Homo sapiens: one gene and its partners. The protein of the gene in region 3 purifies or fractionates together with the protein of the main gene of each other region. This does not show direct contact. Each region holds a gene or a part of one and is shown on either strand. Other genes may lie near its edges.

The links.
Region 1: the proteins of LEMD3 (region 3) and TRDN purify together in Homo sapiens (co-immunoprecipitation; one large-scale study listed by IntAct). This does not show direct contact.
Region 2: the proteins of LEMD3 (region 3) and CSGALNACT2 purify together in Homo sapiens (co-immunoprecipitation; one large-scale study listed by IntAct). This does not show direct contact.
Region 4: the proteins of LEMD3 (region 3) and TDRD1 purify together in Homo sapiens (affinity purification with mass spectrometry; one large-scale study listed by BioGRID and IntAct). This does not show direct contact.

The regions. Positions count from the first base shown.
Region 1 is NC_000006.12:123,626,766-123,630,456, reverse strand, and holds part of TRDN (triadin), read left to right. Parts: intron 1-3,691. UniProt on the Homo sapiens protein: Contributes to the regulation of lumenal Ca2+ release via the sarcoplasmic reticulum calcium release channels RYR1 and RYR2, a key step in triggering skeletal and heart muscle contraction.
Region 2 is NC_000010.11:43,144,939-43,148,629, reverse strand, and holds part of CSGALNACT2 (chondroitin sulfate N-acetylgalactosaminyltransferase 2), read right to left. Parts: intron 1-3,691. UniProt on the Homo sapiens protein: Transfers 1,4-N-acetylgalactosamine (GalNAc) from UDP-GalNAc to the non-reducing end of glucuronic acid (GlcUA). Required for addition of the first GalNAc to the core tetrasaccharide linker and for elongation of chondroitin chains.
Region 3 is NC_000012.12:65,242,569-65,245,895, reverse strand, and holds part of LEMD3 (inner nuclear membrane protein Man1), read right to left. Parts: intron 2,509-3,327; coding exon 2,427-2,508; intron 228-2,426; coding exon 122-227; intron 36-121; coding exon 1-35.
Region 4 is NC_000010.11:114,227,847-114,231,537, forward strand, and holds part of TDRD1 (tudor domain-containing protein 1), read left to right. Parts: intron 1-63; coding exon 64-110; intron 111-191; coding exon 192-284; 3' UTR 285-3,639; coding exon of another isoform or gene 3,640-3,691. UniProt on the Homo sapiens protein: Plays a central role during spermatogenesis by participating in the repression transposable elements and preventing their mobilization, which is essential for the germline integrity.

The sequences.
Region 1 (3,691 bases), on a different chromosome or scaffold from region 3:
TAATTTTTAATCAGTTAACAATATTTAATATGAGAGAAACATAAAACAGTGCAACTAAGCAATTTTAAAATCATCTACATTGACCTTTGTGTTGAATATATCAATTTGAAAAGAAAATGGTTAAGATTTTCCAGTAAAGCTTTTGGTTTTATAGTTATGCTTAGTTGGAGCTTAAAGATAGTATTAAAACATTATTCTTTTCTTCTTTCAAACAAAAAGAAACCCGTTGGGGACATGTTTAATGTATTTTTAAAAAATACATATTATCTAATGTAACATATTTAAAAAGAACAAAGCAGGGGAAAAATCTTCATCTGGCAACTATGCATTAACATCATACAATAATGTCGACTTTACGGAGTTCAGGCTCCATTTTACTTAAAGTTCTAGGAAGATTTGTCAAGGTTAAGTTTTTGCTGTCTCCAGTTCCCACCTGCCCTGGATAATACGAATGACAGGCTTGGTTTTTTACAGAGAATACTTATTTGATTGTCATGTAAATATATATTACCCCTAGTGAGGGTTATGCAGAGACAGATGAACTTCCTGGTCCAAACAGATAGTAATTTTTATCTTCAAAGGAAACCAAAAAGAGTATCCTTGGCAAATGTGCAATGAATAAAGTCTTGCTCTGCTCTATACAAGTTAATGCTCTCTAAACATCAAACATCTCCACATCTCCATGCCTGAAGTGAAGCTGTCAAAGACACACAGAATTTACAATTGTGAGAGATTCTTTGGTATGTAAATGAGCTGTTTCCTCATAAACTGCAGACTCTATCTCACTTACAATGTACTTTAAATATTACATTTAAATATATGTGGTTTAGATATTTTCTAATTTGTTATCTGTGCCAGAAGCTAGGGCATGTGGTTTTCACCCAAACAAGTTAAAGACATGATATTTTGACCTATAAGAACAAAGATAATTTAAATGGAGCAACCTGTTCTTTATAGGGGAAACTTGGTTTCATTTAGACAGCATGAAGCTGGAACTCATTGTGACAAACCAGTTTTATCTTTGCTACGCATTTGCTGCATCATTCTCCCCTCCCTGACACAGGTTACTGAAGTGTTGAGAAAAACAAAAGAAGGAAAAACTCTTAGTATTTCAAACTTAGTTTTAATATGGTCTAGGGCATTAGTGAGCTCGTGGATGTGAGAGATTCAGTTTCCATTTATACAGACGTTCAAAATACATATTTAGCAAACTTTCCTTGGAAAATTGTCTGTTGCCTTTGAAAATAAAATTATCATGTGATTAGGGGAATTTTCTGTTTGAGGAAGACATTTAATATAATGTCAAGACAAAAATAAGAGATATGAAGTGGCACTTCTCTGACATTCACTGCTGGAGCTATTATTTTTGCCCATGGTTATTCTGATTTAACCTATATATTATTGACTAGGGGAAAAAGCGTACTGTAAAATCTGAAAGTTACTACAGTATAGTAAAATGCCAAGTTTGTGAATTTAAATCTGCAGAAATATTAGGCATTGCATTTAGAAAAAGGCAAGTTACCTCCATCTGAAATATAACAAAATTTTAGATTCTATGGTATTAATTATCATCCTAGATGTAGATTTATGAAGCAGTATGTCATGCCAGAGGTTTGGTTTTATTCAATATTTTAATACCTATTACGTACCAAATTGAATGCCTGACAATGTGGACACAAAAATGAATGATAAAAGGTCCCTGCTACATTGCAAAACAAAAAGAAAAGAGCAAAAAATAACAGTGAGAATAAAGACTGGACAGATTATAAAACATTTGATTCCAATTTGAATTGCAGCCATGTCTCTTTTTATTGCACTTTGCTTTATTGCATGCCACAGATATTGCATTTTTCAAAGAAAATGAATAAAGCTATCACCACCATTTTTCCAACAGCATGCGTTCATTTCCTGTCTCTGTGTCACATTTTGGTAATTCTCACAGTATTTCAAATGTTTTCGTTATTGGTATGTCTGTTTCGGTGATCTGTGACCATTGTTCTTTGATATCAATATTGTAATTGTTTTAGGTCACCACAAGCTGCCCCTATATAAGATGGTGAATTTCATCAATAAATATGTGTGTTCTGACTGCTCCAACAACTAGACATTCCCACTATCTCTCCTTCTCCTCAGGCTTTTCTGTTCCCCGAGACACAACAATATTGAGATTAGGAAAATTAATAACCTACAACAGCCTCTAAGAATTCAAGTGAAAGGAAGAGTTGCATATCTTTACTTTCAATCAAAAGCTGAAAATAATTAAGCTTACTGAGGAAGGCATGCCAAAAGCCAAGATAGGCTGAAAGCTAGGCCTCTTGCACCAAACAGCCAAGTTGTGAATGCAAAGGAAAAGTTCTTGAAGGAAATTAAAAGTGCTACTGAACACATGAATGATAAGAAAGTGAAACAAACTTATTGCTGATGTGGAGAAAGTTTTAGTGGTCTGGATAGAAGATCCAACCAGCCAGAATTCTCTTTCAGCCAAAGCCTAATCCAGACCAAGGCCCTAAATCTCTTCAATTCTGTGAAGATGTGGAGAGGTAAGGAAGCTGCAGAAGAAAAGTTGGAAGCTAGCAGAGGTTGGTTCATGAGGTTTAAGAAAAGAAGCCATCTCCACAACATAAAAGTGCAAGGTGGAAGCAGCAAGGATTGATGTAGAAGCTGCAGCAAGTTATCCAGAAGATCTAGCTAAGATCATTGATGAAGGTGGCTACGCTAAACAACACATTTTCAATGTAGACTAAACAGTCCTCTATTAGAAGAAGATGCCATCCAGGACTTTCAGAGCTAGATAGGAGAAGTCAATGCCTGGCTCCAAAGCTTCAAAGTTTAGGCTGACTCTTGTTAGGGAATAATGCAGCTGGTGACTTCAAGTTGAAGCCAATGCTGGTTTACCATTATGACAATTCCAGGGCTCTAAAGAATTACAATAAATTTACTTTGCCTGTGCTCTATCAATGAGATAATAAAGCCTGCATGACAGCACATCTGTTTACAACATAGTTTACTGAATATTTTAAGCCCACTGTTGAGATTTACTACTCAAAAAAAAAATTCTTCCAAAGTATTTCTGCTTATTGACAATGCACCTGGTCACCCAAGAGCTCTGATGGTGATATACAAAAAGATTAATGTTGTTTTCGTGCCTAACAGAAGATCATTTTTGCAGCTCATGGCTCAAGAAGTAATTTTGATTTTCAAGACATTTTTTAAGAAATACATTTTGTGGGCCAGGCTCGGTGGCTCATGCCTATAATCCCAGCAATTTGGAGGCCAAGGTGGGTGGATCACCTGAGGTCAGGAGTTCAAGACCAGCCTGGCCAATGTGGTGAAACCCTGCCTGTACTAAAAATACAAAAAATCAGCTGGGCGTGGTGGCAGGCACCTGTAATCCCAGTTACTTGGGAGGCTGAGGCAGGAGAATTACTTGAACCCGGGTGGTGGAGGCTGCAGTGAGCCGAGATCGTGCCACTGCACTCCAGCCTGGGGAACAAGAGCAAAACTCTGTCTCAAAAAATAAAATAAAATAAAATAAAATAAAATAATAAAAAATTAAAAAAAACATTTTATAAGGCTATAGGTGACATAGGGAGAAATACCTCTTATGGATCCAAGCAAACTATATTGACAACTTTCTCAAGAATTCACCATTCTAGATGCCATTAAAAAATATAATTTTTACATTACAAAT
Region 2 (3,691 bases), on a different chromosome or scaffold from region 3:
AATAAAATAGGAATAATGTTAACAAAAGAACTGCAAGACTTGTATTCATAGAAACTACAAAACATTGTTGGAAGAAAGTTAAGATTTAAATAAACAGAAAGACACCACACTCATGATTGGAAGGCTTAATATTGCTAAAATGGTAATATTCCCCAATTAATGTACAGATTAAACACAATCCTCTTCAAGAATCCCAGTGGACTTCTTGCAGAAATTGGCAAGCTGATCTTAAAATTTATACAAATTCAAGAAACCCAGAATAACCCAAATAATATTGAACAAGAAAAATGAAATTGAAGGAAAACACTTCCCAATTCCAAAAATTACTACAGAGCCCCAGGTAATTAAGACAATGTGGTATGGCATAGAAATAGACATATAGTCAATGGAATGGAACTTAAAGCCCAAAAATAAATCATCACATTTATGGTTAGTTGATTTTCAACAAGAATAGCAAGGCAGTTCAATGGGAGAAAGAATAGTTTTTTCAATAAATAGTACTGGGACAACTGGATATTTACAGGCAAAAGAATGAAACTAGACTCCTACTTCACACCACATTCAAAAATTATCTCAAAATGGGTCAAATATCTGAATATAAGAGTCAAAACTAGAAAACTCTTAGAACAAAACCTATGTGTAAATATTTGTGACCTTGGATCAGGCAACAGCTTCTTAGATATGACACCAAAGACAAAACAAATATTAACTGGACCTCATCAAAATAAAAAAACTTGTGTTGCAAAGGACATCAACAAGAAAGTGAAGAAATAACCCATACAATTAGAGAACATTTGTAAATCATTTGTCTGTCTTACTTTAAAAAGCAAAAAAAAAAAAAAAAAAAGATAACTCGACAAGCAAAAGATCTGAACAGACATTTCTCTAAAGAAGATATATAAATGGCCTATATAAATACATGAAAAGATGCTCAACACCATTAGCCAAAAAGGAAATGCAAATCAAAAGCACAATTAGATACCACTCCACATCCACTAGCATGTAATTCAAGGTGAATCATAGACCTAAATGGAAAAAAACCAAAAGCAAGCATAGGATAAAATCTTTGTCACTCTGAGTTAGGCAAAGATTTCTTAGATATGATATTCAATAGCATAAATGATAAATTGAATTTCATCAAAATTAGCAATCTGTGCTCTTTCAAAGACATTGTTAAGAGAATGAGAAGACAAGTGATGGACCTGGAGAAAATATGGGCAAAGCATGCGTCTTATAAAGGACTTGTACCAAGAATATATTTTAAAATGATCAAAATGAAATAATAACAAACACAACTCAATTAAAATGTGGGAAAAGGCCTGAACCCTTCAAATAAACACTTGAAAAAGATGCTCGGCCGGGCGCGGTGGCTCACGCCTGTAATCCCAGCACTTTGGGAGGCCGAGGCGGGCGGATCACGAGGTCAGGAGATCGAGACCATCCCGGCTAAAACGGTGAAACCCCGTCTCTACTAAAAATACAAAAAATTAGCCGGGCGTAGTGGCGGGCGCCTGTAGTCCCAGCTACTTGGGAGGCTGAGGCAGGAGAATGGCGTGAACCCGGGAGGCGGAGCTTGCAGTGAGCCGAGATCCCGCCACTGCACTCCAGCCTGGGCGACAGAGCGAGACTCCCGTCTCCACAAAAAAAAAAAAAAAAAAAAAAAAAAGATGCTCAACATTGTTAGTCATTAGGGAAATGCAAATCAAACCATAATAAGACACCACTACACAGAAGGGCTAAAAATAGAATGGCTAACATTAAAAAGAATGACCATACCAAGTGTTGTTAACGTGGAAGGACTAGAACTTTCATACACTGCTGATGGGAATATAAAATAGTTTTGTTAATAAGTTATGAACTTAACAAGTTAGATTATTTTCTTATTAAAAAAAAAAAAAAGACAGCATCTTGCTCTGTTACCAGAGCTGTAGCGCAGTGCCTCTATCATATTATAGCTCAATGTAGCCTAACTCCTGGGCTCAAGTGATCCTCCTGCCTCAGCTTCCCGAGTATCTGGGGCTACAAGTGGGAGCCACTACACCTGGTGGGATGGCTAATATTGAGTGTCAACTTGACTGAACTGAAGGATACAAAGTATTGTTCATGGGTGTGTCTGTGAGGGTGTTGCCAAAGGAAATTAACATTTGAGTCAGTGGACTGGGAGGGGTAGACCCACACTCAATCTGGTTGGGCACCATCTACTCAGCTGCCAGCGGGGGTAGAATAAAGCAGGCAGGAGAAGATGGAAGGGCTGACTTGCTGAGTCTTATGGACTTCATCTTTCTCCCATGCTGGATGCTTCCTGACCTAGAACATCAGACTCCAAGTTCTTTAGCTTTTGGACTCTTGGACTTACACCAGTGGTTTTCCAGGGGCTCTTGGGCCTTTGGCTGCACAGACTGAAGGCTGCACTGTTAGCTTCCCTACTTTTGGGACTCGTACTGATCCACCACTGGCTTCCTTGCTCCTCAACTTGCTGATGACCTATCATGGGACTTCACCTTGTGATGGTGTGAGTCAATTCTCCTTAATAAACTCCCTTTCATATATACATATATCCTCTTAGTTCTGTCCCTCTAGAGAACCCAGACTAATACACTTGGCTAATTAAAAAAAAATCTTTTTTTAGAGAGAGAGTCTTGCTATGTAGTCCAGGCCAAGTTTCTTAATAAGTGAGTAAGCCTACTCATATGATCCAGCCATTCCATTCCTAGATATTTACCTAAAAGAAATGAAAGCACATATTCATACTATTAAAATAAGATGGAGACCAGGTCTGTAAATCCCCTGGACAAAGCCAGTTAAGCCATTAAAACAACCTTGACCTTGCAAATATAAGCAATAGAAGCAAAACTTAATTTGGGCTGTTTGCAAATGTAAACTTTGGTTATTTTTTGTCTGTGCCTATATTAAAGAAAAATCAGGCTGGGCATGGTGGCTCATGCCTGTAAGCACCTTGGGAGGTTGAAGCAGGAGGATCACTTGAGGCCAGAATTTGAGATCAGCCTGGGCAATATAGCTAGCGAGACCTTGCCTCTATAAGAAATTAAAAAATTAGCCAGGCGTGGCGATGCATGTCTGTAGTTCATGTTGCCCTGGTTACTTGAGAGGCTGAGGTGGGAGGATCACTTGAGCCCAGGAGTTCAAAGCTGCAGTGAGCTACGATCGCACCAAAGCACTCTAGCCCTGTCTCTTAAAAAAAAAAAAAAAAAAAAAAAAGAAACAAACAAACTTAGGCTACGCCAATTAGAAGCCATCAACTAACTTACATAACTAGGGACTTTCCAATAGGATGGACTAAACAAGGCAACTATATAAATATAATTAATCAAATATTTTCTTTGCCTTGTTTCCTTGTTCATCCTATAGAAGTCTTCCACTTGCATTCCTTTGGTGGAGTCCCAAATCACTTTTGATTTGTTGCTGTCTGATTCATGAATTGCTGTTTGCTCAGACAAAACTCTTTAAAATTTTATTCTGCCTCAGTTTATACTTTAACAATACCAAAACTTGTACACAAATGTTCATAGCAGCTTCTAGGTGTAGAGCCCAAAACCAGAAACAACCCAGGGTCCACCAACAGGTGAATGGACAAACTGTAGTAAAACAGATACACAATGGAACACTGCTTAGCAATAAAAAGGAATAAACTCTGACACATGCTTCACCATGGATAAATATCAACAATTAC
Region 3 (3,327 bases):
TATTCTGGAGACAGACATTTAACATATACACAACCCTGTGATATTAAAAAAGAAAGAAAATAGTCTTAGTTTAATAGCAACAAATCCAAAACATGAAATTCAATACCAAAAGTTACTTTACCTCACGTGAATTTTTGTCTACTGCAATGTGAACAATGCCATCATTATCACTGCATTTTTCTAAAATTGCTTCTTGAATTGCCAAATGCCACTGATCCCCTATTTCCCTAAAAGTTAATGAAAACAAAAATCAACAACCATATTCCTACTCGGTAAAAATTCTTCACTGTCTCTTACAACATATATATATTACTAGAATTGGTATAGTTTTAAAACCACATACGATTTTAATTGGTATTAAGTAAATGCTTGTTGACTAACAGGAGGTAGATTTAAAAATTACAATTCAGAAGTCTCAGCCCTCCTCCCACTTTCCAGTAAAAGAGTGCAGAGCGCTGGCCAGGCGCGGTGGCTCATGCCTGTAATCCCAGCACTTTGAGAGGCCGAGGCAGGCGGATCATGAGGTCAGGAGATCGAGACCATCCTGACTAACACGGTGAAACCCCGTCTCTACTAAAAATACAAAAAAAAAAAAAAATTAGCCAGGCGTGGTGGCAGGTGTCTGTAGTCCCAGCTACTCGGGAGGCTGAGGCAGGAGAATGGCGTGAACCTGGGAGGCAGAGCTTGCAGTGAGCCGAGATCACGCCACTGCACTCAACCCTGGGCAACAGAGTGAGACTCCGTCTCAAAAAAAAAAAAAAAAGAGTGCAGAGAGCTGAGGCAATGAAAGACTAGCCCACCGCTGCAGAATAAATGGATTGGGTCATTCCTATGTTTAAAAATCCTGTGTACTTACAGTAATTTCTGTTTTCTTTCTATTGTTAATAAGTACTTTAAATGAGTTGTGAACTTATTAAAGTTGTAAAAGTTAAATGTTAGTTATTTGAGACAGGGTCTCGCTTTGTCACCCAGGCTGGAGTGCAGTGGCGTGATCTCGGCTCACTGCAATATGTGCCTCCCAGGCTCAAACCATTCTCCCACCTCAGCCTCCCAGATAGCTGGGACTACAGGCACACACCACCAATTCTGGCTAATTTCTTTTGTATTTTTTGTAGAGACGGGGTTTTGCCACATTGCCCAGGCTGGTCTCGAACTCCTGAGTTCAAGTGATCCACCCACCTCGGCTTCCCAAAGCACTGGGATTATAGGTGTGAGCCACTGTGCCCAGCCGAATGTTATTTTCTTTAATTGTAATGATAGGTTCAAATTCCTAAAGAAAATTCTTAGTAAATACTACATTTGAGCTTCTCTTTTCCAAAATAATTGATACAGGACTAACATTTTGTACAGTCACCTTACTATAATGACAGTTTTAAGGTGTTTCTGCTGTAGTAAGGGACATTTGTCTTGCTTGTGAGACAAAGATGGCAGGAGAGAGAGGAAAGTGACTTCACTTCAAATCACAAATTTTCATCTTAGGTAATAAAATAGTGGACTTGCCAATTCCTAAGGCATGAGGTAAGATTCCCAACAGAGGTATCATCACACTACTAATTGTTTCTATCTCTGCAAAATAGAGGCGGTGTTTGTCTCTGTGTGTGTGGGGGGGGTGTGTGTGTGTGTGTGTGCGCGTGCCCACGTGCAAACACGTGTGCATACTGCTTCCTCACATTTCCAATTTTGCTGTCACTTATTTGGAATTTCATCAATGAGTGATTAGATGAGACTTTGGGGGTATTGTATACATATTGTAATTGCCACTGTTGGGACTTTTAAAACAAACAGAATTTGATCTGTACTATCACTGGATAGATAAGCAGTGCCCTCAGGAAGCTAATTCTAAGAACTATTACAGCTTATATATGAAATACTGTGAATTCTAAGGCAGTCACTTTTGACTGTGCTATTCTCTGGAAGCATATGTTGTTGGAATTATAAAGTCTGAAAAGTTCTTCAAATATTATATTGACAAGTGGAGACAGGACTTTGTAGAGAAGCAGGTATATACATCTTTGTAGGAAACTTTTTACAATTTGAGATTTGAAATTTGTAAGCAGCAGTGATTGTATCTATATTTTCTACTGAGGCAAAAATATTGACAGTCATGTATAATGACTTACACATTTAATAAAGGGTACTCTTTGTCATTGTGAGTCATTAATTTGCCTCAAGCATTTATCTATCTGCTATGACGATTCATAAGGAATACAAAGATTTATAAAAGTTTTACAAATCTTTATACATTAGTGTCCTTTGGCCAAATCTTTGCTTGGAATTTAATGAAAGAGAAAAACATAACATTTCTGTGGTAGAGATTCAGAAGAAAAACATTTTCAATTACAGACACACCATTATAAGAATATCATGCATTTTCCAGCCAAATATTCAGAATAAGAGTTACATGTACCCCTGATCATAATACTTACATAACGGGATCAAACATATTCCGAATCTTTAGACACGGTGTCAAACTATTTGGTGGTGAATTTCTTCTATCTAAATGAAATGCTACAAAAAACAAGTTAGTTTTACTATTTGACATTGTTCTAGTTTGTTGAAAGGTATTCAATCATTCAGTTCATTCAAAAAATATTCACTGCATGCTTTTACTAGGAGCCAGACCCCTGGTTAGATGTTAAGGTGAGTAAGACAGTCATTGCTATCAAAGAGTTTACAGTTTAATGGGAGAGACAGATGATAAAGAGTGTCATGTAAGAAAGTACAACTGTGATTAAGTCCTTAAAAAAAAAAGTACAAAAAGCTTTTTAAAAGTAACTTAACCTCATATGAGAAAATAAAACTTCCCTGAAAAAGTGAAATTTATGTGGGAACTGAAGAATAAAAATTAGCAGGGTGAAGAGAGGTGTGTAAAGGAAGATTTCAAGCAGAGGTGATTGCTTGTACACAGCTCCTGGGGCACGAAGGAGCAAATGTGGCTGGAGTAGAAAGAATAGAGATAAACCTACAGAAGATGTCAGATTATTTAAGATGATGTAGGCTACAAAAAAGTATTTGGGCATTATGGTAAGAGTAATAGCCACTCAACTGTTTTAAGGAGTAGAATAGGATGAGATCTGTCTTTTAAAACTACATATTTTAAAAATACATTGTTATGTGGAGACTCAGGTAAAAGCAGAAGTGAATGCAAGATGACCAGTTAGAAGGTTATTATTATATTATAGTTGTCTAAGAAGGAGAGGATAATGATGTGGGTAAGACAGGCCAACAGTGCAAGTGACAAGCGGATAGAATCAGGACATATTATGGAGTAGATATGACATGACCTGTTGAAAGGTTGGACAAAGAGGGATAAAGGAGAGATTAAGA
Region 4 (3,691 bases), on a different chromosome or scaffold from region 3:
CTCCCAAGTTTTTCTTCTTTACATTATGTGTTATCTAATGGCTTATTTTTCTTGTGCTTTTAGAAAAGATGTATAGGATGAATTGCTGCTGCACAGAGTTACAGAAACAAGTAGGTAAAATTTCCTTTAAGTGAAATTATACTCCTAACGTTTTTAGAAATTAAATCATATGGTTTCTTTTTCACCCACAGGTTGAAAAACATGAACATATTCTTCTCTTCCTCTTAAACAATTCAACCAATCAAAATAAATTTATTGAAATGAAAAAACTGTTAAAAAGTTAAGTAAGTTAAATCGTATGTTTTCGCCTCTTCTGTGATCACCAATAGGACATCTTCAGGCATATTGGCAGGATAGAGCTAATGGAGTGAAACCTATTGTAAGGCTGTACTTTCGTGATTTAATGACCTGAGGTTTGGTCATAATGCTTCTGCTGTTTTTGTAGGTTTATCTGATCGTTTTCCTTTGCTACTGCTAATGGAACTGAACCCCCAGGGGTATTCCAGTTGTAATAGCCTTTCCTTACTGTTGTTTGGTTCTGTGAATGCCTATGTTATTGATATGTGGAGGGACTTGTAAAACTTGTTGTGACATAAAGCTTAGCCTCAGATTTTTTGTCTAGATCTGAAATTAACTCAGAGCTCACTTATGCACATTGCTGTAAATATGTTTAGCACTTTTTGCGAGGGGTATCTAAAGGGCCAAGAACGGAAAGTGGATCTAAAGGGCCAAGAACGGAAAGTGGGCTGCACTGAGGGTATTTTTCATTTAAAAACAAAACATACTCCCTGCTTTTGGCTGTGGTGATTCTAGTGTCTAAAGAACATACTGGTGAGTTTTAAACCAGTGTTCCTCCCCACCCCACCCCCATATTTTAAATGTCTGGGATCCTTTGTTGTAAGATGGTTCTCAGAAATAAATTTTTGATTAAGAGCCAATTAGAACTTCTGATCAGGGCTGGGGGTGGTGGCTCACGCCTGTAATCCCAGCACTTTGGGAGGCTGAGGCGGGCAGATCACCTGAGCCCAGGCGTTCGAAGTCAGCCTGGCCAAGATGGCGAAACACTGCCTCTACTTAAAATACAAAATTAGCTGGGCATGGTGGTGCACACCTGTTAACCCAGCTACTTGGGAGGCTGAGACAGGAGAATCGCTTGAATCCAGGAGGCGGCGGTTGCAGTGAGCCAAGACTGCTATTATACTCCAGCCTGGGTGACAGAGTGAGAGTTTGTCTCAAAAACAAAACAAAACAAAACAAAAAAAAAAACAACCTCTAATCTCAGAATAAAGTTGTCTCTCCTCACCACTTTGAGTTGTTACAGTTCCAGCCAAAAGCAAAGGAACTTTGATTTACTTAATATGTGCACTTTTGTTGGTTAACAAATTTATATTAAACTGTTTGGAAATAGTTCAAGAGGTGGCTATAATACTCTTCATGAATCTTTTATGGGTGTAGTAACTCTCAAGTAGGAACCAACTGCCAACTGTGTTAAAACATATCTTTCATGTGGTAATAGACCGTTTCTTTGCGTTTTAAGAAAGGTCAATTGAATTATAAGCTAAATGTAATTAATGCAAGATCAACTATCTTGACTCTCATGTTTCCTTTTACAAATTTTGGGTTATTACAACTTTCAGTCCTTTCTAATACATTGTCTTAATACTGACTGTTTTGTATGTTTAAGCTTAAAATCTTTTAATCTTTTTTTTTTTTTTTTTTGGAGACGGAGTCTTGCTCTGTCACCCAGGCTGGAGTGCAATGGCGTGATCTCGGCTCACTGCAAGCTCCACCTCCCAGGTTCACGCAATTCTCCCACATCAGCCTCCCAAGTAGCTGGGACTACAGGCGCACACTGCCACACCCGGCTAATCTTAAACTTAATGGTGATTTTAATTTCATAGATCAAGGAACATGCAATGACATGGATTTCTGGAATTTAGTCCTAGTATCAAGTCACTATATATATATATATTTTTTTTTTATTTTTTATTTTTATTTTTTTTTGAGACAGTCTCGCTCTGTTGTCCAGGCTGGAGTGCAGTGGCGCTATCTCAGCTCACTACAACCTCCGCCTCCCGGGTTCATGCCATTCTCCTGCCTCAGCTTCCCAAGTAGCTGGGACTATAGGTGCCCGCCACCACACCCAGCTAATCTTTTTGTATTTTTAGTAGAGACAGGGTTTCACCGTGTTAGCCAGGATGGTCTCGATCTCCTGACCTCGTGATCTGCCCTCCTCGGCCTCCCAAAGTGCTGGGATTACAGGCGTGAGCCACTGCGCCCGGCCACCAAGTCATTACATTTTTAACCAAGTTGGTTGGCCTGTATGTTCTTCTTATCTGTGTAACAGGCATTTTTCCTAAGGATATTGAGTGTGCTTACACATAAAACTTAAAGTGAAATTTCATTGTTTCTTGATAGATTTAAGACAGGGCTTAGTAGCTTTCAAAAGAAAACTTGATTTAAAGCATAGTAGTTGAACTGGATTTTTCCTGACTGTGGGAATAAATAGATATTTTATTTACATTTGAATACAGTGCAATACCTTGTGTTTGGGTAGTACGTATTTACAAAGCATTTTTACATCTACTCACATACTTAATCTTCACAATGCCCTTGAAAAGAAAGTAGGACCCATTTTACAGTTAAGGAAGCTGAGGCTCAGAGAGGGTTACATGACTGTCCAAAATCACATACAGGCTGAAACACTAGGTCTTACGACTTAAAACAGTTGTGTCAACTTCCCTGAGCTGCTACGTGTACAGTATCCTTTTAGATCAGATCAGTTACATAGGGCATGAAACTAGAGGGTTACATTATTAGGAAAAAATAATGTACATGATTGCTTAAGCATTACTTCATTGTGGTGAAAATAGAGCTGAATATTTACTCCTTTAAATTATTCTTTGAGATAGAATGGGTGTAAAAATGTATTTTGGCTGGGCATGGTGGCTCAGGCCTGTAATCCCAGCACTTTTGGGAGGCTGAGGAGGGCAGGTCACATGAGGCCCAGGAGTTTGAGACCATCCTGGCCAACATGGTGAAACTTTGTCTCTACCAAAAAAAATATAGAATTAGCCAGGTGAGGTGGCGTGCACCTGTAGTCCCAGCTACTGGGGAGGCTGAGGCAGGAGAATTGCTTGAACCCAGGAGCCGAAGGTTGCAGTGAGCCGAGATGGCACCACTGCACTCCAGCTTGGGCAACAGAGTGAGACCCTGTCTCAAAAAAATAAAATAAAAGACAAACACATGTATTTCATCATCTGGAGAAATTTAATTGTTAGCAATTTAATTGTAAAATTGCTAAAACAGAAGTGCTGTGGTGATATGAACATAAAACCCTCTGTAATCTGTTGCTCAGGTGATGTTTCAACACACAAGTTAATGTCAGATATCTTTTATATATAAGGAGAGTGCAAACAACTATATGTTATATTTGTGAAGGGGAGTATAAACAGCTGTACTTAGCATATATTATGCTATGTTATGGTGGTCATTAATTTTCTTAACTGACAGGTCTGGCTTAAATGCGTAATTTCAGTTAAAAGTGAATATTTTGTTTGCTTGTATTTGAAATTAAAAGCCATAGCAATTGAGTTTTTGTGTAAGGCATAATGATAGTTGATTTTTTTTCTTTTTCAGAAACAGCATCTCTTGGAGGTAAACCCTTATGAGACAGGAAACAGCAAAGGCT